Linked DNA regions of Homo sapiens. The protein of the gene in region 2 purifies or fractionates together with the protein of the main gene of each other region. This does not show direct contact. Each region holds a gene or a part of one and is shown on either strand. Other genes may lie near its edges.

Region 1 (3,500 bases), on a different chromosome or scaffold from region 2:
TGTAATCCCAGCACTCTGGGAGGCCGAGGCAGGCAGATCATGAGGTCAGGAGATTGAGACCATCCTGGCCAACATGGTGAAACCCCACATCTACTAAAAACACACAAAAAATTAGCTGGGTGTGGTGGCACGCCCGTAGTCCCAACTACTTAGGAGGCTGAGGCAGGAGAATCACTTGAACCTGGGAGGCAGAGGTTGCAGTGAGCCAAGATCACACCATTGTACTCCAGCCTGGGCAACAGAGCGAGACTCCATCTCAAAAAAAAAAAAAAAAAAAAGGGAAGGGAGAGTTGGCATCATGGGGAACTTTGTTCTGTAAAGACATATACTTAACATGATTGGGAAATCCTAAGTTTAAACGATACAACACAAGGTTTTTTGTCTATTTTTTTATTAAAAAAAATATTTTCAGCAACACCAGCCCAAGAAGACACAAGGTTTTTAAATTTAATTAAAAAAAAAATTTTTTTGGAGACAGAGGCTTACTGTTGCCCAGGCTGGAATGCAGTGCTGCCATCATGGCTCATGGAGCCTCAACTTCCTAGCTCAAGTGATCCTCCCACCTCAGGGTCCAGAGTAGGTGGGACTTGGCCGGGTTCAGTGGCTCACGCCTGTAACCCCAGAACTTTGGGAGGCTGAGGCGGGCGGATCACCTGAGGTCAAGAGTTTGAGACCAGCCTGGCCAACATGGTAAAACCCCGTCACTACTGAAAATACAAAAATTAGCCAGGTGTGGTGGCAGGCGCCTGAAATCTCAGCTACTTGGGAGGCTGAGGCAGGAGAATCGCTTGAACCCGAGAGGCGGAGGTTGCAGTGAGCTGAGATCGCGCCATCGCCCTCCAGCCTGGGGAACAAGAGCGAGACTTCGTCTCAAAAAAAAAAAAAGAGTAGCTGGGGCTATAGGATTGTGCAACCATGCTCAGGTAATATTTTTATTTTTTATAGAGACAGGGTTATGTTGCCCAGGCTGGTCTTGAACTCCTGGACTCAAGCAATCCTCCCACCTCAGCCTCCCAAAGTGTTGGGATTACAGGCATGTAACAGCCATCGCACTCGGCCTGTTTTTATTTTTAAGGCAAGGTCTTCCTGTCGCCCAGGCTGCAGTGCCGTGCACGATCATAGCTTACTGCAGCCTTGAACTCCTGGGCTCAAGTGATCCTCCTGACTCAGTCTTCTGAGTAGCTGGGACTACAAGCATGTCACCATGCTCAGGCAATTTTTAATTTTTTCTAAAGACAACAGGGGTCTCACTATGTTGCCAGGCTAGTCTTGGATTCCTAGGCTCAAGTGATCCTCCTGACTTGGCCTCCTAAAGCGCTAGGATTACAAGCATGAGCCACTGTGTTCTAACCTACTTTTAATTTTAGGTTTTTTTTTTTTTTTTTTTTTTTCGTGACAGGGTCTTGCACTGTCACCCAGGCTGGAGTGTAGTAGTGTAATCATAGCTCACAGCAGCCTCAAACTCCTGGGCTCAAGTGATCCTCCTACCTTTGTCTCCTGAGTAGCTTTAACTATAGGTGTGTGCATGTAGTCAGTCATAGCCATGCCTGGCTAATTTTTAAATTTTTTGTAGAGAAGGGGTCTCACTATGTTGCCCAGTCTGGTCTGGAACTCCTGGTCTCAAATGATCCTACTACCTTGGCCTCCCAAAGTGTTGGAATTATAGGTATGAGCCAGCGCACCTGGCCTGAGGCCTGACACACACTTTCTTTTTTTTTTTTTAAATTCTGGACTTCTCAGAGCCTTTAATGTTCTAACAAGCACAGTGAATTTCCAAGAGACGATATAGCACATGCTACAGTTTCCAGACACATTTGGCTAAGGAACCCTTTTCTGAGAATCCCCTAATAATATCCCCTGAAACAATAATCTTCAGAACATGAGAAATACCAGATTAGACTTAGAAGGCTCTTTCTGGCTCCCCCATTCTAAGATTCTAAATAAGATTCAAGTATTAGTCTAGGGGTCTCAACTCTCCAGGGTGCTTATACTAACATCTTTTTTTTTTTGAGATGCAGTTTCACTCTTGTTGCCCAGACTGAGTGAAGTGCAATGACGCGATCTCGGCTCACTGCAACCTCCGCCTCCTGGGTTCAAGTGATTCTCCTGCCTCAGCCTCCCAAGTAGCTGGGATTACAGGTGCCTGCCACCATGCCTGGCTAATTTTTGTATTTTTAGTAGAGACGGGTTTCACCATATTGGCCAGGCTGGTCTCGAACTCCAGACCTCAGGTGATCCACCTGCCTCGGCCTCCCAAAGTGCTGGGATTACAGGAGGGAGCCACCACACCCGGCTGATACTAACATCACTTTTTTACAGATACCATGGAACCTCCCCTCTCCCAACACTTGGAAATAGGACTGAGATCTTTCCTTTAAACAATTCTTGCCAGAGTGACAATGTTTAGATGAACTGCCCAAGAAAAAAGATGCACAGTTTCTCTGGGAAGACCCGCTCTAAGCAGGGGGTAAAGGCTCCATGTAGATTGTTTCCATCCAAAGAGATGAACCATGTGTATTTTCCTACCTGGACGATAGGCCTGCTGCTGCTCCATTTCCAGTGGTCTCCTCTCGTAGCCTGACTCGTTTTCTTGTTTGATGACTTGGGTATCGTAGAATTGGTTCTGCCTGGTAATATTGTCCATGGCATCTTAAAACAAAATTAAAAATGGCCAATTAGAGGGGCGGTTCATGAAGAACCCTGGACCAAAGCATCCAGAAGGCATCTGCAGGTCCAGGAGCTCAACTAAGAGTGGTAAGAATAATAATATTAACTATTCATGGCATGCATACTATACTCCAGAGCCTGGGATACAGCTGAAGACAAGCTTGCCCCACTGAAGCCTTCAGTTTAGTGAGACAGACAAATCTTAAAGACACACAAAAATTTAATATGATTGTGTTGAAGGCTACAAAGTAGTACCAGGAATGAAGAAAGGGACCTGGAAAATAACAGATAAGCCTTGATTCAAAGGATACACAGGTAATGACTCAGTGATGAGAATGGAGAATGTTACTGGGGTTGGGATAACACGTGTGAAAGCTCAGAGGTGGAACTAAAACCAGAAATTCCCTCAAGAACCTTGCAGCCAAACCCAGAGAGAACTTTAGAAAGCTAGGATGGGCAGCATACAGGCTCTCCTCCCCAGGGGCTAGCTCTCAGTTAGGGCCCCAAGGGCCCTACCAGTGGCTATGCCAGGAGCCGTGAGCCAGAACCAAAGGGAAGGAGAGACTATTCTGCCACTTGCTAACTGATCGGATTCCTTCTCAGAGGATAAATACATCTGGGCACAAACCAGGTGCAGCCCAAAGGGAGGAAAGTCACAGGTCATGTGGTTTGCTACCGGTCTGTTTACCAAGGTTGAAGGAGGGCTTAAGGGAGGCATGAAGGGGGCTCAAAGGACTTTGTTGTAGCAAGTAAGGGAGAGAGGAAGAAATAGCATTATCTCCTTAATTGGAATATGGGGCCCTTTCAAACTATTCTGCTGCTTCCAGGCTCCA
Region 2 (3,500 bases):
ACTCAGTAAAATTCAACTCCAGTTGGGGTGGAGTCAGGGTGGTTTATTGGACGCCTGTGTGCCTGAGATTGGGCAACAGCACCTTTTCACCCCTGTAAGGGCGTTAGCTTAGCTTCAGTATCTCCAGAGCACGTACCTTGCCGTGCAAGCACCTCTCTCTCTGTGGCTCTCTGCCAGGGCTGATACACCTTTGGGTGGTTTTCAGGTGCAGGTGATCCCCTGGGTATTAGCCGACAGTAACTTTGTCCGGAGCCCATCTCAGAGGCTTGACCCCAGCAGGACGGTGTTTGTCGGTGCTCTGCATGGAATGCTAAATGCTGAGGCCCTGGCAGCCATCTTGAACGACCTATTTGGTGGAGTGGTGTATGCCGGGATTGACACAGATAAGCACAAGTATCCCATTGGTAAGTGTCCCACTTCTGTGTGCGAAAGCTTGGTTGGCCCCTGGGAGTAGACCAAGATTGTGATACTTCCCCATGGGAGTGAGGAGAGAGGCCTGACCCAGGTCTGCAGATCAGCATATACCAGCACCATAATATCTTTTTCTAGACAAGTCACGAGTACTGGCCCTTCTGTATCTAGCCCTCTACCCACCATCTCCCACGCAGTGGGAGAAAAAGCTATTGGAGACTACAGGAGGTGATAAGAAGTGAGAGTGAGGTAGGAACTTTGTTGGAAGCTCAGAGTTCACAGCGAAACCAGTTTGGAACAGACAACAGGTACTATTTCATGAAAAGGCTGCAATTCTCTGAACTTGCCTGGAGTTTTTTATTAAAAGTTCTTGAAAAGCTCTGGCATTGTCTAAGGTCAGAGACCAGGTCAGGCTGGAGGAGGACTTTCTGAGTGAGTCAGGCAACAGAGTGTGGCCTGTGCTTTCCTAACTCAGAAGTCTGTGGGCCTAACCACTAGGTTTTGATCAGCTCCTCTGAGAAAGGAGGTCAATTCGCCAGTCCTGGCAAAATGTCAATGATGAGGTATGGAGGTGGAGCAGAGCCTGACCTCTGTGATTAACATGTGGCTAACCCACCTCCCCAAATGCTTAGTCTTCACACCCACACTGAATCTGGTCAGGAAGGAGCACCATGTACTCACCAATACTGTGCAGCAGATTGAGAACAGGGACTTCAGAAGCCCCAGGAGCGGAGGAGGAACTTGGCAGGATGGGGCTTCTTCCAGCTCTCTTAATAGGTCTCCAGAGTGCCTAAGGGCTAGGAGAGGTTCAGTTCAACTGCTGGGCTTACCCTTCAGACAAGTGTTCTATCTGCATCTTGGCTTCCACTCTGAATCCTTTAACCTTAACCTATGCTCTACCTGCACTGAAGGAGTCCCTTATCTTTCCTTCCCATCTTGATCTGCAAATTCTTCCCCCATTCCTGAATGGTTCACGCTAACATGATCTCCACTGTCAAATATGGTACGAATATGGTAGCTACCAGCTAAATGTGGCCCCATTGAGTTTTGGAAACACAGCTGTTGTCACATTTGGAAATAATATTATTAACATATAGGGTTAAATAAAATTTTTTTTTTGAGATGGAGTCTCACTCTGTTGCCGTGCTGGAGTGCAGTGGTGCTATCTCAGCTCACTGCAACCTCTGCCTCCTGGGTTCAAGTGATTCTCCTGCCTCAGCCTCCTGAGTAGCTGGGACTACAGGTGTGCGCCACCACGCTCAGCTAATTTTTGTATTTTTAGTAGAGACGGGGTTTCACCATGTTAGCCAGGATGGTCTCCATCTCTTGACCTCATGATCCGCCCACCTTGGCCTCCCAAAGCACTGGGTTTACAGGTGTGAGCCACCGTGCCCGGCCAATAAAATATATTATTAAAATTAATGTCACCACTGTTTTAAAATTTCAGTGTGACTACTAGAAAATTTAAAGTTACATAAGGGCTGACCATGATGGCTTATACCTATAATCCTGGCACTTTGGGAGGCCGAGGTGGGGCAGATCGTTTGAGTCCAGGAGTTCAAGACCAGCCTGGACAATATGGTGAAACCCTGTCTCTACAAAAAAATACAAAAATTAGCCAGGCATGGTGGCTCATGCTTGTAGTCCCAGCTACTTGGGAGGCTGAGGCAGGAGATTGTTTGAGCCTGGGATGCAGAGGTTGCAGTGAGCTGAGATCACGCCATTACACTCCAGCCTGAGTGACAGAGGGAGACCCTGTCTCAAAAAATAAATAAAGTTACATAGTAGCTCACATTATATTTCTGTCGGACAGCACTAGTATCGTAAAGGGTTTCCTGCATTTTAAAAGAGTAGCATTAGGGCAGGCTCGGTGGCTCACGCCTGTAATCCCAGCACTTTGGGAGGCTGAGGCGGGCGGGTCACAAGGTCAGGAGATCAAGACCATGCTGGCTAATGGTGAAACCCGATCTCTACTAAAAATACAAAAAATTAGCTGGGTGTGGTGGCAGATGCCTGTAGTCCCAGCTACTCGGGAGGCTGAGGCAGGAGAATGGCGTGAAACCGGGAGGCAGAGCTTGCAGTGAGCAGAGATTGCGCCACTGCACACCAGCCTGGGCGAAAGAGCGAGACTCCATCTCAAAAAAAAAAAAAAAAAAAAAAAAAGTAGCATTTGGGAGAATTTGGTTAGAAGGGAAGCTTGTGTCTGTTGTCCTAGGTTCTGGTCGTGTGACTTTCAATAACCAACGGAGTTACCTGAAAGCAGTCAGCGCTGCTTTTGTGGAGATCAAAACCACCAAGTTCACAAAGAAGGTGAGTTGGCTGGTTTATGCCCTTACTCTGGGGTATATGAGAGGGGTTTGGGCAGTTACTACCCAGGGCAGGCCTGAGACCTGAAGCTGTTTGTGCTGGGTGTGTTTAGGGAAGTGAGCCAAATTCCTGAGAATTAACATTGAGGTTAGGGTTTGGGAGTGGGCTTGGTCTTTGTACGCCCAGGAGGAAGGGAACTGGGACTGTTGAGCCTCTTCAGTGTGTAGGGTGCCTTCCCTCACTGTGGTATTTCTTTGGCATTGCTCAGTAGCCTGACTTCCTATTTTCCAACCTTTTGGGAATCCTCCGAACACTTGCCTATACTGCTAATTGATAGAGGGCTGAGGTACAGTTTGCCTAGAAGACCAGGCATTAAGGTGTGTGGTTGCCTGAATCCCAGAGGCATCCAGCCTGACTGTGCATGGTGTATGAGTCTGTCCTCTAGAACTCCTTTCTGTACTTCAGGCCCATAATTCTCTCCAAGCCTCCTTTAAAACAGGCAAATATCCTGCATTCCAATATCCCGCATTCCTGTGTGTGGCCAATAATGTGCCCTTCTTCTATCGCCTATCGAGCCTCCTGGTAAGAAGAGCCACTTCATCATCTTATTTTGCCTTTGTGCAGGTTCAGATTGACCCCTACCTAGAAGATTCTCTGTGTCATATCTGCAGTTCTCAGCCTGGTCCTTTCTTCTGTCGAGATCAGGTGGGTCCGATGTCTATGAAGTCCCTGCCCTCTATTAAAAATTGTTGGCTGGGCGCGGTGGTTCACACCTGTAATCC
Region 3 (3,500 bases), on a different chromosome or scaffold from region 2:
CAGCTGCCAGAAACCTTGCTTATGGCTTCCTGATGCTACAAAAGCTGAGGCAAGGCCTTCAGTCTGTTTTTTCAAAGCAGTCATTCCGGTAACACTTCTAAAAGCAAAACCACGTGATCCATGCCTATAATAGGGAACCCTTATGGCCAAAGTTTCTAGTTGATAGAAGAACAAAAGAATTAAGGTAACAAGACAGGTGGAATGTGTAAGAGCTTGGACTCTGAAGTCAGGCTGGATTTGAATCCTGTTTCTGCTACTTATTTGTGAGGTTTTGAGAAAACCAAGTTTTAGATTAAGTTCATCCATTAAGTGGGGGCATTAAATGCCTGCACCATAGGGTTATGATGATTAAATATAAAGGATTTAGCAAAAGAGATGCCTGCAGCATAAATAACATTTTTAAAGTATTGGTTTTAAATGAGACAGTGCTGATTTTTAAAGGCAACCTACCAGAATGGAGGTTGTTGATTATTGATTCTCCTTTTTCACTGCAGAATATTAGTACAGCTGTTTTGAGTTTGTTTTGTGCTTAATAAACCTTACATCAATTTTGCAGTTCCTAGGGAACTTGGAAAACTAGGGATAGATCATCATTTTTGTTATCAGTAGCCACAACTTTTTTCTCCTCAGTGTCGTTGGGGTTTCTTTTTTTTCCCCTCACCGCTAGATGTTTTGACCGAACATTATGTTCAGTCTGTTCTTTGCTACCCTTCTCCTGTCCCATCATGCATGACTGTGTTCTTTCTTGTTTTTTTCCTTCTACTCTTCAACAGCTGCCCCTGACAAATGTGCTAAAAATAACAAGTAGACTTACATATATGGAGAGATTGGGTACATGAGACATAGTAGCTTTAGGGCAGCACTCTGGGCTTCTAGGAAACAAGGACAGGAAAAGTCAGTGAGATTGTAATATGCACTTATTTTTAGCGTCTTAATAGTGCTTTCCTGAAATACTCCTCCTTAGTGTTTGGCTTATACAACATATATCACGTTTGCTGAAAGCATGATGATTCTTTTTCATATCTTTTGAAATAAAATGTATTTCACCTTAGGAATTGAAGTTTCAGAGCAAAGTCGTTCCTTAGTGCCACGTAAAACATCATATGCAGAAGCTGATCGAAAGCTGCTTTTGAACATGTACGCTTATTCCTGTAACTTAACTGCATTTAGTTAATTGACTGAATGGCTGACTTTCCTACCTATTCCATGTCAGAAGTAAAAGTTGTCTTGATCCTTTAAACCATATTTTTTAATAATCTTTATAATATCTACTAGCTCTCTGACTAAGTAGTCTGGTTAAGCCAGTCAAGAGCATCAAAAGAAAATTCCTAAAGCTCTCATCCATATAACTAAGCTACTTCAAGGTTGTCAGTGTGTTCTCTTAAAAATATATAGATGGATCTCTAGGATAGTAAAAATTATTGAGATCAAATATAAAAGTCTTCGCCAACGTTTTCTACTATTACAACGCTATGAAATTTATTGGGCATAATAGAAAAAAAAAATAGGAATATATAGGCCAGTGGTATTTGCCTTATGCACTAAGGACATAATATAGCATGATTTATTAGTGACTGAATAACTTCCATTTTTAAAGAAAATAGTTCTATAGATTTGAAAATTAAGTAGAATCATTCACTGAGCTACTATGTGCTTGTTGTCTTTGAGAAAATAATTATATGATGGAGGGAAGGGAGCAACATTGTGGCATCTACCAGGTGACAGATATTTGGAATCGGTTCTTACTTTAGTTGTCTCTAGAGCCTGAGGGAAGCAGTGGTTTCCATATTTTTTGTTGTTGTCACAAATGAAGGAATTTGATTACTTTTAAAAATCAGCAACTTTTATTTTACATGGACAAGAAGTGGTAGAACTTAATTTTAATTCATTTTGTTCTTGTCATCCAGTCTTTCTGGCAGACTCTCATCCTTTATACACGTTAATTGCTGTTTCTGTCAGTCTTTTTTTGTGACTCAACAGTTTCTGAGGAAGAAATGGCCGAGCTTACTTAGGAAACTAAAGAGAGGCTCATGTGATGGGGATGATGTGAATGAAGGGGGAGAGGGTATGAGGTGAGATCTCAGGGGAGGTCAGACATGCTGGTAGACCACTGTAAAGACTTGACCTACTGTAAATGTGATGAGAAGCCAGTAAAGGGATCTCAACAGAAAAGAAACATTGAAGAGATTATTGGACTGTTTTGTTGGGACTAGACCACAGGAGGTAAGAGTATAAAAGCAGGGAGAACAGCTGCTATAATCTTTTCAGTAGAGAAATGAACATGGGTTGTATTAGAGAAGCTGGCAGTGGAAGGTCTGATTAAATGGTTAGATTTGGAAAATGTTTTAAGCATATAGAGGTGTTGGCATTTCATGATGGATTGAGTGAAGAGTATGAGGAATGGTAATATATTGTATGAGGAGTAAATAATACCTCTGCAGTTTTGATTTAAACAAATACGGGAATACTGAAGAAAGATTGGGTTTGGAGGGAAAGGTGAAAATTCTTTGGAGGTCTTTTTCTCATATTAAATTCACGTACAAGTGGAGGTGTTAAGTAGGCAGAAGAAATAAAGCAGAGGGAAGAGGTAGAAAGTGGCTGGAGGATGGAAGGTGTAGTCTTAGATACAGTGGTTGACAACATTTTTGGGAGTTCATTAAGTTGTATTTGAGAAGAGACCTAAATGGAGCAAGGGATCAAGTCCATCAGGTCCCAGGAAAGGCGTGAATGGGAGTCTGAAGGGGAGAAATGGAACTGCAAATAATTATTTGGAATTATTTATTTATTTATTTATTTATTTATTTTTTGAGATGGAGTCTCACTCTGTCACCCAGGCTGGAGTGCAGTGACACGATCTCGGCTCACTGCAAGCTCCATCTCCTGGGTTCATGCCATTCTCCTGCCTCAGCCTCCTGAGTAGCTGGGACTACAGGCACCCGCCACCACGCCTGGCTAATTTTTTGTATTTTTAGTAGAAACGAGGTTTCACTGTGTTAGCCAGGATGGTCTCAATCTCCTGACTTTGTGATCCACCTGCCTTGGCCTCCCAAAGTGCTGGGATTACAGGCGTGAGCCACCGCTCCTGGCTGATTTGGAGTTATAAAACAGGATGTTTAAAGCCGTAGGGGCAGGATGATATTAACTATAAAGTGAGTGTAGGTGGAAATAGGGTCCTAGGATCAAGTTCTGGGACACACCAACGATTAAAGATTAGGAAGATGAGGATTGTCTAGCAAAGGACAGTGAGAAGGAGCAGCCAAGGAGAATGTATTTCAAGAAAGAAATGTGTTAAATGCTTGTTGATAAGTAGAGATTAAGCTGAGAATTGATTATTAGATTTGGTAACTTGGAGGTCAGTGGTTTGGTGAAGACAAAAGTTTAAATAGAATGAACTTAAGAAACAGCAAAGGGCGGGAAGAGGAGACATATTCCCCATTGAGGTTTCTGTAGTGGTGGTCATGGTGTTTGGTTTTTCTTTAGTATGTATGTCTGTAAAGAAA
Region 4 (3,500 bases), on a different chromosome or scaffold from region 2:
CAATATAGCGGGTGGTAGCAGTGGTTACAAAGTGGGACGCTAGAAATCAAGAGTTCAGAGTGCATAGAATTTCTGGTGACTAGATCCAGAATGTAATCTGGATATGGTGGAGCTGAAGTAAAGGACTAAAGATGAGGTAGACATAGAAGTAGGTAGGAGTCTAAAGCCCTGGATGGTTCACCAATGTAGATGTTAAAGGTATTAGAAAGAAGCCAATTTAGGGCAGAAGAGGAAGACAGTGAGCCAGAAGCAATCTTTAGATTAATGAAAGGCTGAAACCACAAGAGCAACGAATGACAGCTTCAACAAAAGGGAAAGGATATGTCTGGATGATAAAAATGTAAAGAAACAGTGGTTTTTACAAGGGGAGGCAGCGGTCTAACGCAGTGTTTTTAAATCATAGGTAGTATTAGATCACAATTGGCATTTTAAAAAATGAAATAGAATAAGAAATATCAAAATAAATCATGTATAATAAATAAAAGTACAGTTTTGTTAAATTGTTTCAGTTATATATAAATGTGTATAGAACTGTGATATAAAATCTACTTCTCAATCAATTCCATGGATTTAGAATTGGATATTTAAAAAAATCTGATCAGCCAGGCACTGTGGCTCACGCCTGTAATCCCAGCACTTTGGGAGGCCGAGGCGGGAGGATCACCAGAGGTCGGGAGTTCTAGACTAGCCTGACCAACATAGAGAAACCCCGTCTCTACTAAAAATACAAAATTAGCCAGGCGTGGTGGCACATGCTAGTCCCAGCTACTCGGGAGGCTGAGGCAGGAGAATTGCTTGAACCAAGGAGGCGGAGGTTGCAGTGAGCCGAGATCGTACCATTGCACTCCAGCCTAGGCAACAAGAGCGAAACTCCGTCTCAAAAAAAAAAAAAATCTGATCTAGACAAGGCAGCAGGGAGAGAGTAAAAACTTTCATCCTCTTGGTCCTAAAATACACTAATTGTCAAGGGGAAAAAAAGCATTCACTTGAGGGCTATAGAGCAAAAGCTCCAGCAAAAGCCAAGGTTCAATTAAGACAAAGAAGTGAAGGGGACATTCCAAGAAATGAAGGATATAAGGGAACTTGCTTAAACCCAAACCACTATAAAGCAGAAAGGAAGCAATTTAGATACTTCAGACCTGAATTCTTAATTTAATACATACAACCCCTCAGTTTTTTTGAGCACTTGTAAGTAGTACAACATATTTCGCAAAAGTAATTTCTAAATACATTTTTGTTTTACCTGTGACTTTACTGAATTCTTCCAAAATGTTTTCTTTAGTCTTATTCTTCGGAATGGATCCAACAAAAAGTCTGTTGTTTGCCACAGAAATGCACACTCCAAGGTGTTTACCAGGGCGAATTTCATAGCTGTCACACTGCAATAAGAAAAGAACCAGAGACCCCAAAACCACCCCAAACTCAGGACAATTGATCTTAATCTAAAAAATTCAACAATTTAAGGCCAAACGCTCCCTGCTTCATCAACTCACCAAGTTCCCTCATGCTTTCCATAATATGAATGTATATTTTAAACTTCATTGTTACAGTCTCTTGTTTTAGTTTGGTTTTGTTAACCTTCACTACTCTTCCATATAAAAAGGACTCACTTTATTGTTTAAAATATCTTATTTCATATTTTAATTTTATCTATCTGAAAATGTTTTTCCACAGATTTTTCAGAAAAAAATACCTGAGACTGATCATTCAGGGTCCTTGGAAATGTAATTGCATATAGGTAAGCCATACTCAAAATAACAATATGTAAAGGGTAACAACTATGTTTAATCAATGCAAAGATATTAGAAAAATTTCAAATTCTACAGAAGTCACAGAATTCTAAATATATAGTTTTAAATTGTCTACCAAACACAATACTTTCAAAATTTTATAAAATTTTGAAAAATGTTTTATTTAAATCACTATAGTGGATTTTCTTGATAAATTGTAGCCCTTTTTTTTTTTTCTTAAGATGGAGTCTCGCTCTGTCATCCAAGCTGGAGGGCAGTAGCATGATCTTTGCTCACTGCAACCTCCACCTCCTGGGTTGAAGTGATTCTCCTGCCTCAGCCTCCCAAGTAGCTGGGACTACAGGCGTGCGCCACCACGCCCAGCTAATTTTTGTATTTTTAGTAAAGACAGGGTTTCACCACGTTGGCCAGGCTGATCTTGAACTCCTGACCTCAGGTGATCTGCCTGCCTCAGCCTCCCAAAGTGCTGGGATTACAGGCGTGAGCCACCACACCTGGCCAATTTTAGCTTCTTATACTTTAATATTATTTAACCATTAGTTTACTAAGAGATATGATTATTAAAAATAAAATCATCCATATGCTGCCAAAAATGAAAACTTAATATTAAATAAACAAGTTTGAAGAAAAAATCCATAATAAAAACTAAAATCTGGGTCAAGCTAGGAGTGGAACTAATTCAGACACCAGTAATGAAACCAAAGCCTTGATGAAAGAAGTTGACCATTCTACAAAGGCTAGAACTAGACTTAGTGAGGTCCTCAGAAGTCAGGCAAGGGTATGCCAAAAAATAATTACATTGTTATTTTAAGATACTGAGATAGCTGTGTCTTAAATACAGCAGGAGTGAAGATACATTTGATTTGCAGAACTTTGTTGCTACTACTACTGGTCTGAAATGAGCACCAAGTGGTTAAAGGCCCTAGAGAAAGGAAATTAATATGAGACTGGCTATAAATAGTAGGAGAGGAGAGAAAGATTAAAGACAGAGAAGACTCAAGGGCCAAGAAACATACAGGAAGAACAAAAATACACTTAGAAAATATGAAATAAATCGTATGAGTAGGCTGTAACCAAAATAAAACAGATTCACAACTATTTTCTGAATTGAATCCTAAGTCACTGTCATCCACTATTATGTTCCCCACAGCCCATTCCAGTCTTCATTATACTTTAAGAATCCTAAAGTTTAACATCAAGAATTGACATCCTTTTGCCTAAAACCAAAAGACAGAAATGCATAAGCCAAATACTCATATGAAACTTCTGATATCAATCTAATAGATAACTTCTTAAATCAATGGGAGACTTTCTATAAAACATTACTTTTTGGGTATTTTCAGTTCTTTTTTACTTTTATAGTCAGAGAAAAATAAACGTCACATACCAACTTGGTCAGTATAAAAACATTCCAAGCAACAACTGAAGAAATCAAAATAATGTTAACTACAAACATTTTTGAATTAAAGTTTATTTCCTCAAATAGTGACTTGCTAAGACAGTGGATAATTATCACATACCAGTTTCACGGCTTCCTGTGCAGCTTCCTTTCCACAGAAGGTGATAAATGCATACCCTCTATTCTGACCGGACAGTGGATCCATCATAAGACGTAGATCCCAAATGGGTCCGGCCTTCTCAAAAAGGGGCACCAACTCATCCTCATATAAATCCCTTGGTATTTTGCCTACAAATACCTGAAATAAAACCCCCTTATTAGAATCCAACATAAGCATTTGATTTTAGAGC
Region 5 (4,201 bases), on a different chromosome or scaffold from region 2:
TACTGGGAAATGAAGGTTGACTTCACAGCATTCCAGCCTGGCTTTAAAGGATGTGTAGGCAAGTTCTTTAATCTGAACATACATTTCCCCAACATGATGAGGGTACAGAGCGGGGATAGTTGATGAAACCCGCTTCTGTCTTCTGGAGTGACACAGGAGTGCAATCTTATCCATTATAACACTCCAAAATAGTCAAGGATAATTACCTTGTACTGTCTGATTTTTCTATTTTTGAGGCAAATATTTCTGAGTTTCTTTCACTGGGTCTCAGGATAGAATATGAACCCACATAGAAGGCCTTTCCACCTCCTCTATGTACTAAAATTTTATCTCTTTCAAGGCTAAAGTCAATGCCATCTTCTCCATCACATCCCCTAATGATTACAGAGGAGTGGTATCTTATCTGCATAAACACAAGTGCATACAGTAAAAACTACTTTGGAAAATGCCTACATTCACCCATAATATACAGTATATCTGGCTTTCTGTATGCAATCCAACACAACCAGTTTTTCCCCAGTACTAAAACATACTATGTACCTTTGGTTTAGAGCTGACAAAGACTCTCCTTGATCAAACTTTTGTTAGACTCCCCTGAGCCCTCTTTTTGACTAGCCCTTGACCTTGCCTCCCCAAACCCTTCAGTCTTAGGCCCACCTAGTTCAGTTTTAGCAAGAATACTGAAGTCATTTTAGTGAGACTCCTCACCCTTGATGCATGACCACGCTTGATATCTGATCAAGTTCCTCATTCCCGCCTTTGATGTACAAGTCCTTGGTCTGCCTTTAACAAGAATCTTGTTAGGTCAGGTGAGCAAAAATCCTCCCACTCTTTATGACTCCTCTTAGTAATTTTCTATATATTGATCCCCTTACTCTGTTCATTGGTCATAAATCCCCCGCTGTTTTTGCTGTATTCGGAATTGAGCTCCAACTCTCTTCTTTCCTATTGCAATACCCTATTACCATAGCCTTGAGTCAAGTCAGCCTTACTGTTTTAACCAATTACTTTTTCCTTAACAGAGCCAAAAGAAGTAGGTGACTTGTTTCCTAGCCATGTTGTACTCTGTGGATATAGGTGAATTCACATACCTTAAGTGTTGATACCATGTGATGCAAATGCTCGCTCTTTCCTCCAGCATTTTTCTCTTACCATCCCTAGTATAATCCTCCATTTTACCATGTACTATCCTATATTGTGTACATGTATATTGCATGCATATCATAGCCTCTGATGCTCCTCTGGGATTGTGTGTTTTTCATCTTAAGAGTCCCCATAGTGTCCAGCATGGTGACATAAAACAGGGCCTCATCATCTTTGCCCCTTCTCAGATGTTGTTCAAGCCTGTTAATATCCCTCTCCAAATGTGATAACCATTAGTGAAAACGATATTCCAGACACGATTTCACCAATATGGAGAGTCTCTACCCTTTTCCCCCACCCCAAATCACACTTCTGTTAGCTCAATCTTAGACTTCAGCTGTTTTAGCAGCCATATCTCACCCATACTGGCCCTCTGGTCTGCTAAAACCCAAGGTCTTTTTCGGGAGGTCTGTTATTAAGCCCAGATTCCCACTACCTTATGTTTATTTGTACAAGTCTTTACGTTTACCCTTGTTAAACTGCTTCTTGGTTTTCCACGCAAGGCAGCAGCCTGTTGATAAACGTGTTTTTGAAGCACAATTCTGTGGTGTGACAGAAGACTCTTTGATTTTCACTTGGGTGGTAGCAGGAAAAGGAGACCAAAGAGCCTTCAGCCACAGGGTGAAAGGGAGCCTCCAGAAGGCTGGCTCTGCCCCTGGGTCTCCATGGAGAAGCCACAGGTGCTAATGGAGGTTTGGTACGCACGTAGTTTGTGCCCTTTTCTTCTTTCCAGAGCTTCCTGAGCTTCTCCCTTCTACCCTGGGCCTCTTCAGTTCTCCCAGATAGCGGACCCCCGAGGCAGCAGCGCCTCAACAAGGTGGCAGAGGTCCCTGTAAAGCCCGCGCTCGGGCTCGCAGCCCCCAACAGGCAGCCTCTAACCCGCGCTCCCGCGATGCCTGGGCCCCCTCTGGAGGCTCCCCTCCCCCACCGCGAGCGCTGTCCCTCAGCCCCCGCGAGCGGCGCATGGACGCGGGACGCAGCTCCCGGCCCCGGGTTCCGGCCTCCGGGGGCGCGGGCAGCGCGGGAGGCTCTCCGCGGCGACTTGGCGCAGGGGCCCAGCTCGGGCAGAACTGGCGGGCTCCGGGCGGCGCTGGTGGGGCGTGGGCGAGGCGCGGGAGGGGAGGTCTGCGCCGCCCCGGGACTGGCCTGAGCCGCTGGGGGAGCTGCGTCCCTCTGCGCCCCGGGGCGGGAAAGGTGGCCCTCGCGCGGGGGTCGTGGCAGCAAGCTGGGCCCGCGATTCGGGGCCGGGAGTGGGCCGGCCCGTACCTGATCTTGAAGTCGCGGTTATAAATGGTCCGCAGCCGCTCGCGATCTGTCTCCATGTCCAGTCCCCGAACGACCAGGAAACTCTCGAAACACTGGCCCGCCTCCCGGAGCTGCCGGCAGCTGAACTTACTGGGCATCGCGGCGGCGGCTGCGGCCCAGGCAGGAGGGTCCGTGGAAATGAAACTGAAAGTCGCCGCTGCAGCTGGAAGTTGGCGGCCCTGAGATGAGGGTGCAGCAGGAGGGAAGCCCCCTAACTCTGACCCCTGATCCTGCGGGCTCCCTTCTCCCCACCAGGCTTCCCTCCTCCGTTCTTTTCTTACCTGAGCTTTCCCTTCGGTTTCTTCGTCCTATCCCCTCCCCCTCTTCGCATTAACTCTTTCCTAAAGCGTCTGACCCCTCCCTCAGGGCCCTCCCCTTACCCCAAGCTCCCTCCCCTGGCTTCTAGCCAGTATCAGAACGTGGCTACCGCTTGGGGCCCTCTGAACAGCCCGGGAGGACCTCCGAGCCTCAGCCAGGGCTACCCTCACGCCCACCCTCCAGAGCCTCGGGACTCAGTGAAAAGCAGGAGAGCAAAGGGCAGGGCTGGGATCTAGGTCGGCTGCGGCCGGAATGGGGAAGCTCATCCAGCGCCTCCCCCAGCCTTCCAGGGACGTAAACTCGGGGCGACACGCCCCCTCCCCCATTTTCCCTTCTCGGGCTTTCAGACGCACGTAGTTGGCATAAGGGTCAAAGAAGTTTGGGGAAAAGAACCCAGTGTCTCTGAGATAAAGGTGTGTACGTGTGGGAGGGAGGGACAAGGGGCTCTGCCAGGATACACAGTAATTGCTTTTCTCTGCCACATCGGCTTATGTGGAAAGGCTGGTGACCGACCCTTACCCCTGAGCCACATATTTGGGCGCTTCGTTGCATTCCAGTCTGTATTGCTCTTTAATTTTTACTGGTATATAAGGTGGACCCTTATATTCATCAAAATACTAGCATCTTGAGCGTAAGGGACTGTTGTGTTAGGCAATAATAAGTGGTTAATAGTGACAGCATCAGTACCAAGAAGAGAACTAAAAGGGCAGTGTGCTTCAGAAGACTGTATAGACAAATTTAAGGGGGTGGGGCTACAATAACAAACCTTTGTATCTATTTTTTTCCCGCAGAATGAAATGACACACACACTAGAATGGGACAAGCTAAGTTACACTACAAAGTTTTAAATCAAATACATCACTTTCAAATAAATCAAAGCTAGTGTTGTTCTCCATAGTAGCTACCAGCAGGAGGCCACACACTCAATCTACGGAATTGAAGAAAGTCCAGAACCCAGGTCATACTCCAGCTGGGCTACCCGGTACCTTCTCTCAGGCCAACAACCAAATGAAGCCAGGAATAACAGGCTTTAGCAACAGGAAATGCAATGTCAGTGGGAACCAAAGCTACGGGGATGGGTAAAATAGGGCAGAGGAAAACATCTTACAAACTTATTATGCAAAGTAGAAGAAAAAACTAGAAAAGCAGCCAAAGATTTTACCTTTTTTCTCCCTCAATGTCCTGATGAGGTTCCAGAAGAATAGAGAGGGTGAACTCTTAAAAATTGCCTTGTTACTTACCATCTCAAAAACGTACCATCAACCGTACTCAAACTGAATGTCTGGCTCCATTCTGACCAGCAAATCTAAATCCCTATTATTCTTGGATACAATCTCCCTTCTTCTCTGGTCAGGTTTATGTCTTGGATGTTCTCAAAACGTACACAAAAGTCTGCAGTATAGTAAAACCTTGGGTAAAAAGTGTGATGCTATGT
Region 6 (3,500 bases), on a different chromosome or scaffold from region 2:
GTAATCCCAGCTACACAGGAAGCTGAGGCAGGAGAATCGCTTGAACCTGGCAGGCAGAGGTTGCAGTGAGCCGAGATGATGCCATTGCACTCCAGCCTGGGTGACAGAGTGAGACTCTGTCTCTAAAAAGGAACAACAACAAAAAGGTATTAGAGAAGTTGCACGGACAGCTCCTGGACAGTTGAGGAGGTGGGAGGGAGAATGGGTTGGAGGGGCAGCATGCGCCAGCAGGGGGAGCTGTGGACGAGCAATGGGTTGGCGCCTAGGTTATGGCAAGAACAGTGGCTGGTGGATGTTGGTACAGCTCAGGACCGGTGTGGGAGCATGGCCAGGACCAGCAGTGAGCCTGTGGGGACGAGATCCTCTGGTCTAGTGAAAGAGTGGTTGCAAAGGCAGGGGGAGAACGGTGCTGTCCTGCTGGGGAAGCCAGGCCAAGGAGGGATGCTTGTATTGCTGCTCTGTGGAACCAGAGGCATTCTTGTCAGAAGGGAGGCGGTGACGCAAAAGTGTGGCAGCTGAGCCTTGGATCGGGCCCTGCCCCAAGGGTTCGCGAATGTGTGTGTGGCATACCTTGGCCCCATCGTCTGTCCCATAATCCTGCGGTTTTCACGCGTCTATTCTTAATAGACAGACTTTAGAATTGGTTTGTCAAATGCTTAATAAGAAGCCTCTGCAGACTTTGATTGGAATTGTGTTCAATTTATGGATTAATTTAAGAGGTTTTTGTCTCCTCACACATAAAAGTTCTATCATCCAGGAACATATATCTCCATGGATTTACATCCTTTTGCCAAGTTGTGTGCTTAGTCCATACCTTTCTGACCCACCTTAGTTCACCTTAGGTAGGTGATGGTTTTTGTTACTGTTGTGAATAGAATTTTTAAAATTAAATTTAATTATCTCAAAAACCCAAGGAGAAAGTTTTATGAAGGCAGGCCATGGTCACTCTCCAGCTTGTCATGAGTTGGGTGGGATTGAAAGCTCACTGTAGAGAGGTTCCTGGCCCGTGGCCCGTGCTGTCTGCTGTCACATGGCCCTGATGTTCACCTGACAGGCCTTGTTCTTGCTGTCCCGCAGACTTTGTCGCCTTTACCACTCCCAGTGGCAGCTCCTGCAACCTGTGCTTTCTTTGCAGTTGCTCCTGTTCTCCCAGCTGCTCACTCATCTCACCCACGTCTTTGTTCCTTAGACCCTGGCCATCTGCATTTCTCTTCTGCTGCTTAGATTCCTTGTTTGTTTGTTTGTTTGTTTTTGGAGATAGGGTCTTGCTCTGTCACCCAGGCTGGAGTTCAGTGGTGTGATCATGGCTCACTGCAGCCTCGATCTGTAGGCCTCAAGTGATCCTCTTGCCTCAGCCTCCCAAGTCTCTGGGACTACAGGCACATACCACCACCCCTGGCTAACTGCCTCTTATATTCCGAACTGCTTGAGGGCAAGGACCAGGTCTTGTCTCTCCTGATGATGCTTAGGTGGCCAACATGTTGCTGCGTACATGCTAGAGACTTAGGCAATGTTTAATTTATATTTTCTGTAGAAAAGCATGAAGCTATAACACATTTAAAATCATATTTTTGTATAAATAGCTTTAACATTTCAAGTTATTTCTCTAGAATGTATTCCTAACATAGGATTCTTATATTCTCTTTTTTTTTTTTTTTTTTTTGAGACGGAGTTTCGCCGGAGGTTTGCTCTTGTTACCCAGGCTGGAGTGCAATGGTGCGATCTCAGCTCACCGCAACCTCTGCCTCCCAGGTTCAAGTGATTCTCCTGCCTCAGCCTCCCAAGTAGCTGGAATTACAGGCATGCACCACCATGCCCAGCTGATTTTGTGTTTTTAGTAGAGACGGGGTTTCTCCATATTGGTCAGGCTGGTCTCAAACTCCTGACCTCAGGTGATCCGCCCACCTCGGCCTCCCAAAGTGCTGGGATTACATGCGTGAGCCACCGTGCCCAGCCTTCAGGATTCTTATATTCTTATATATAACTTCTTATAACAGAAGTTGTATCCGTTTCATGGTGTGGGCTACATAGGTTTTTTTGTTTGTTTGTTTGTTTGTTTTTTTGTGGAGTCTCTATTGCCCAGGCTGGAGTGCAGCAGCCCCATCTCAGCTCACTGCAACCACTGCCTCCCAGGTTCAAGCGATTCTCCTGTCTCAGCCCCCTGAGTAGCTGAGATTACAGGTGCCCACCACCACGCCCGGCTAATTTTTGTATTTTTAGGAGGATGGGGTTTCGCCATGTTGGCCAGGCTGGTCTCCAACTCCTGACCTCGAGTAGTCCACCTGCCTGGGCCTCCCAGAGTTCTGGGATTACAGGTGTGAGCCACTGTGCCCGTCTGGCTACGTATTTTTTTTTCTTTTCTTTTCTTTTTTTTTTTGAGACGGAATCTTGCTCTGTCGCCCAGGTTGGAGTGCAGTGCCATGATCTTGGCTCACTGCAAGCTCCGCCTCCCAGGTTCACGCCATTCTCCTGCCTCAGCCTCCCAAGTAGCTGGGACTACAGGCACTCGCCACCACGCCTGGCTAATTTTTTTGTATTTTTAGTAGAGACAGGGTTTCACCGTGTTGGCCAGGATGGTCTCGATCTCCTGACGTCATGATCCGCCCGTCTCGGCCTCCCAAAGTGCTGGGATTACAGGTGTGAGCCACCGCACCCGGCCCTACGTACTTTTTAATTGCTGTATTTACTGAAGCTTCCTAGATCATTATGTGAATGTATCTTCTTGGGCTTGGTGCGGTGGCTCATGTCTGTAATCCTAGCACTTTGGGAGGCCAAGGCGGGCGGATCTGTTGGGTCCAGGAGTTCAAGACCATCCTGGGCAACATGGTGAAGCCCTGTTGCTACAAAAATTCGCTGGGCGTTGTGGTGCATGCCTTTAGTCCCAGTTACTTTGGAAGTTGAGGTGGGAGGGTCACCTGAGCCCAGGAGGCAGAGGTTGTAGTGAGCCGTGATTGTGCCACTGCACTCCAGTCTGGGTGACAGAGCGAGACCCTGTGTCAAAAAAACAAAAAACAAACAGTATCTTCTGCTCACCCATTGCCATGTGGGGTTATTTGTTTGCATCAAAGCTAGGCATCTTTGAGAGTTCCATGCCCAGTTCTGGACTAGGGGCTGAAGTGGGTAAACAGATGAAAAACCACGGCTGCACAACACAACTTAACGGTGTAGCTGGACACGGACCAGGCCGACTGAGGTGTAAAGATGGTATCAATCCTTAAAACGTCCCTTTTCCCCTCCAGGGTTGGGGTCTGCTAGGTCCCCGGAATGAGTTGTTTGACGCAGCCAAATACCGAGTGCTAGCTGATCGCTTTGGCTCCCCTGCCGACAGCTGGTGGCGTCCGGAACCCACCATGCCCCCTACTTCCTGGCGGCAGCTGAATCCAGAGAGTATTCGACCAGGGGGACCTGGGGGCCTATCCCGCTCTTTAGGCCGGGAAGAAGAGGAGGACGAGGAGGAAGAGCTAGAAGAAGGGACCATAGATGTTACCGACTTCTTGTCC
Region 7 (3,500 bases), on a different chromosome or scaffold from region 2:
CAATCAGGAAGCATATATTGGGTTAACCACCCACTCACAGAGGTGGTAGGACTTGTGCTCCAAAGATCGGGAAATTTTCATAGCTGGAGTTTATATTGAAAGGTACTATTAGTGTGAACAAAGATTTGCAGTGGGCGTTAGTATGGCTTTTAATAATGCTATATAGAAAGTAGATTGGTCTGAGCCAACAGCATGTTCTAGAGGTTTGGTGGAAAAGGTTCAAAATAGGTAGGGCTTAGTTAGAATGGTGAAGGTTTTGACATGCAAGTGCAGGACAGTAGGTTTTACCAGAGGAGGCATCATGAAGCCATTTTAGACCTTGGACAATGATGGTTTGATTTAATGAAAATTGATATTCCTGAGTCCATACAGGTTAATGATCTTTGTCTTTATATTACTACTAACTTTTTTCTTAATAGATACAAAGCATCACAAAGACTGATCTCTCAAGATATCCATAGTAACACATACAATTACAAAAGCACTTTTTCTGTGGAAATTGTTCCAATATGCAAGGTACTTTTCTTTTTCATTTAATCCATATCTGTAAAAGAGTACAAGTAATTAATTGGCTTATATGTAATTTGTAGCTCCTGGTTTTCCTCTAGGGTTGGTTAAAAATTTAGAATAAGTTCCTTAAGTGACTTCTAACACATTCAGCCATGTTAAAAGATATATATTTTTAAAAAAGTCATGCTTATAATTATGAATTGACATGCCTTTTATTTTGGTGTATTAAAATGAAAAGACCTGGTTATAGTTGATAAAAGTCCGTATTCTTTGAAATTTGTGATCCTATGAGCCTGTATCATATAGTTCAGTGAAATTGAATAAAAGAAATGACATTAAAATCAATATTAGTGAGCCACTTTGTGGAATATGTACAAACAAAATTTTGGCAAGAAATGAAAGAATATTGTGATAATGTGAAAATGAGATCATAGAATCATTTTTATGATTTTAAAACATAAGCTGAATAAAACATTTAAAATGTAGATTATTTCATTTAATTGTACTAAGATAAAACTCTGCTTCAGAAAAATATGAATTAAAATTCAATAAATAGTTATTGAGTATCTATAGTATAGAAGGCTGTGTACTGAGGATTGTATAACTACAGGTCTCTGCCATGTAAGAATTTATATGTCAGTATTAAATCACTAAGAATGATAACTGCCATTATTGTGACCATTCTACATAAAGTTAATCTAGATACTTTAGTGTCTTTCACCTCATTCTCATCTCATAATAACTGAGGTAAGCCATATCATTTTGACGATGAGGAAATTGAAGTTTGAGGAGGTTAGATAACTTGCCCAAAGTTACATGATCACAAAATGATGAAGCTAGGATTTGCACCCAGGTCTGTGTCTCCAAAGCTTTAAAACTGCTATTGCTATTTTATAGTATGTACTAGGGATGAAATGATAGCTTAAAATAGGGTCAGCAAACTTTCTCTGTAAAGAGACAGATGGTAAATTTTTTAACTTTCAGGTCGTATAATCTCTTTTGCAGCTACTCAGCTTTGCTGTTGTACAAAAGTAGCATGGGTAATATGTAAAGGAATGTCAGGGCCGTGTTCTGGTAAAACTTTATTTACAAAAACAGATGGTGGGTCAGATTTGTCCTGAGGGTGGCATTTTGCCAACCTCTGGTTTAAAACAGTAAATGTTTCCCTGGTACAAATCTTGAGAAATATGAATTTAGGTGTGAGGGCATATTTAGGCCTTGTGTAACTGAGTTTTACACATGTAAAAATTAACATATGTATTAAACTATGTAAAAAAGTATATTTGTTTATCTTTGGAAACTCATGTATTAAAAACCAAGGACTGAACTAAGAGCTGTTATGATTGTGAATAGATACACCTTAAAATATAACTCAGATCTTTTTTGTATTTTAATTCAGTTTAAAAACAGATAATTACGTTGCTGCTTCATGTCTCCCAATATAAATGTAGACATGTGACTTTTTTGGGCTTAAATCTTTGATTGTATATTGGCACATGTAGCCATGTAAGAGAAATGTGTTCCTTTGAAGTTTATTTTTTAATGGAGATTGAAAGAAGTCACAGGTGGATTTATAGAATCACTCTCCTGCTAATGTTTATAATACTCTGTTTAGAATGTACACTGTATTAACATATAGAGTGATAAGAGGCATTCACACTGCAATAAAATGGAAATAATAATAGCTTGGTGATTTGGGCCCTGGATTTTTTTTTTTTTTTTGAGAGACAGTTTTGCTCTGTCACCTAGGCTAGAGTGCAGTGGCACCACCTTAACTCACTGAAGCCTCGACCTCCTGGGCCCAGGCTGTCATTCCACCTCAGCCTCCCAAGTAGCTAGGCCCACAGGCATGCACCACCACGTTTGGCTAATTAAAATATATATATATATGTATATGGAGACAGGGTCTCCATATGTTGTCCAGGTTAGACTTGAACTCCTGGGCTCAAGGGATTCTCCCACCTTGTCCTCCCAGATTGCTGGAATTACAGGAGTGAGCCAGCGTGCTCAGCCAGGATTTTTTTTTTTTTAAAGCATTTTTATTAAGACAAGATGCCTGTCATACTTAAGGTCTGATTCTTTTCTTTAGTCTCTTTGTTGATTGATAGAATTGAAAATAACGTTTTGGTTGGTCAAATGCAATTGGATTGGGTGTTTATTGATGAGTGTTTATTGGACTGTTATTTAGGATATGCCTCATTCTAAATGTTAGTTCTTATGCCTAGGATAATGTTGTCTGTCTGTCTCCAAAACTGGCACAAAGCCTGGGAAATATGAACCAGATTTGTGTGTGTATTCGAGTAACCAGTGCCATTCACCTCATTGATCCAAACACCCTACAAGGTAAATTCTGGAAATGATTTGCCTTGACAATTTTGTTTTGTATGACAAACAATAATAATTTGTGTTGTTAATTTTTCAAGCATTCTTGCTAATATTGTTTTGAAAGGTTAGTTAAAATTTGTGCTATTGTTTAATACAAAACATTGTGGAATTTGCAAGCTTTGATTAGTTACTTTTGTATTTTTTATTTAAAGAAACAATTCTGTTAATTTTTACATATTTACTGGTTTATTCCATTAATTTTTACTGAAATTGACTTTTTTTTTTTTTTTTTTGAGATGGAGTCTGGCTCTATTGCCCAGGCTGGTGTGCAGTGGCGCAATCTCAGCTCACTGCAACCTCCGCCTCCCAGGTTCAAGCTATTCTCCTGCTGCAGCTTCCCAAGTAGCTGGGATTACAGGTGCCTGCCACCATGCCCAGCTAATTTTTGTATTTTTAGTAGAGACGGGGTTTCACTGTGTTGGCCAGGCTGGTCTTGAACTCCTGACCTCGTGATCTGCCCGCCTCGGCCTCCCAAGGTGCTGGGATTACAAGCGTGAGCCACCATGTCCAGCCTGAAATTGACTTATTTACCTCATTTAATTTTTGTGACTATTTACTTAAGTCCATTGCCAAAATTTGGTGTCTAGCAGTTATTTTAAATTTTG

The links.
Region 1: the proteins of CPEB1 (region 2) and HNRNPUL1 purify together in Homo sapiens (affinity purification with mass spectrometry; one large-scale study listed by BioGRID and IntAct). This does not show direct contact.
Region 3: the proteins of CPEB1 (region 2) and YBX3 purify together in Homo sapiens (affinity purification with mass spectrometry; one large-scale study listed by BioGRID and IntAct). This does not show direct contact.
Region 4: the proteins of CPEB1 (region 2) and HNRNPR purify together in Homo sapiens (affinity purification with mass spectrometry; one large-scale study listed by BioGRID and IntAct). This does not show direct contact.
Region 5: the proteins of CPEB1 (region 2) and MOV10 purify together in Homo sapiens (affinity purification with mass spectrometry; one large-scale study listed by BioGRID and IntAct). This does not show direct contact.
Region 6: the proteins of CPEB1 (region 2) and DHX30 purify together in Homo sapiens (affinity purification with mass spectrometry; one large-scale study listed by BioGRID and IntAct). This does not show direct contact.
Region 7: the proteins of CPEB1 (region 2) and NMD3 purify together in Homo sapiens (affinity purification with mass spectrometry; 2 studies listed by BioGRID and IntAct, with this or other methods). This does not show direct contact.

The regions. Positions count from the first base shown.
Region 1 is NC_000019.10:41,267,372-41,270,871, reverse strand, and holds part of HNRNPUL1 (heterogeneous nuclear ribonucleoprotein U-like protein 1), read right to left. Parts: intron 2,650-3,500; coding exon 2,527-2,649; intron 1-2,526.
Region 2 is NC_000015.10:82,546,364-82,549,863, reverse strand, and holds part of CPEB1 (cytoplasmic polyadenylation element-binding protein 1), read left to right. Parts: intron 1-205; coding exon 206-404; intron 405-2,626; coding exon 2,627-2,721; intron 2,722-3,342; coding exon 3,343-3,423; intron 3,424-3,500.
Region 3 is NC_000012.12:10,706,324-10,709,823, reverse strand, and holds part of YBX3 (Y-box-binding protein 3), read left to right. Parts: intron 1-3,500. UniProt on the Homo sapiens protein: Binds to the GM-CSF promoter. Seems to act as a repressor. Also binds to full-length mRNA and to short RNA sequences containing the consensus site 5'-UCCAUCA-3'. May have a role in translation repression.
Region 4 is NC_000001.11:23,320,285-23,323,784, forward strand, and holds part of HNRNPR (heterogeneous nuclear ribonucleoprotein R), read right to left. Parts: intron 3,449-3,500; coding exon 3,272-3,448; intron 1,380-3,271; coding exon 1,244-1,379; intron 1-1,243. UniProt on the Homo sapiens protein: Component of ribonucleosomes, which are complexes of at least 20 other different heterogeneous nuclear ribonucleoproteins (hnRNP). hnRNP play an important role in processing of precursor mRNA in the nucleus.
Region 5 is NC_000001.11:112,673,258-112,677,458, reverse strand, and holds the start of MOV10 (helicase MOV-10), read right to left. Parts: upstream 2,801-4,201; 5' UTR 2,730-2,800; intron 2,722-2,729; exon of another isoform or gene 2,612-2,721; 5' UTR 2,547-2,611; coding exon 2,410-2,546; intron 1,969-2,409; exon of another isoform or gene 709-1,968; intron 1-708.
Region 6 is NC_000003.12:47,837,638-47,841,137, forward strand, and holds part of DHX30 (ATP-dependent RNA helicase DHX30), read left to right. Parts: intron 1-3,239; coding exon 3,240-3,500.
Region 7 is NC_000003.12:161,238,311-161,241,810, forward strand, and holds part of NMD3 (60S ribosomal export protein NMD3), read left to right. Parts: intron 1-419; coding exon 420-516; intron 517-2,735; coding exon 2,736-2,853; intron 2,854-3,500. UniProt on the Homo sapiens protein: Acts as an adapter for the XPO1/CRM1-mediated export of the 60S ribosomal subunit.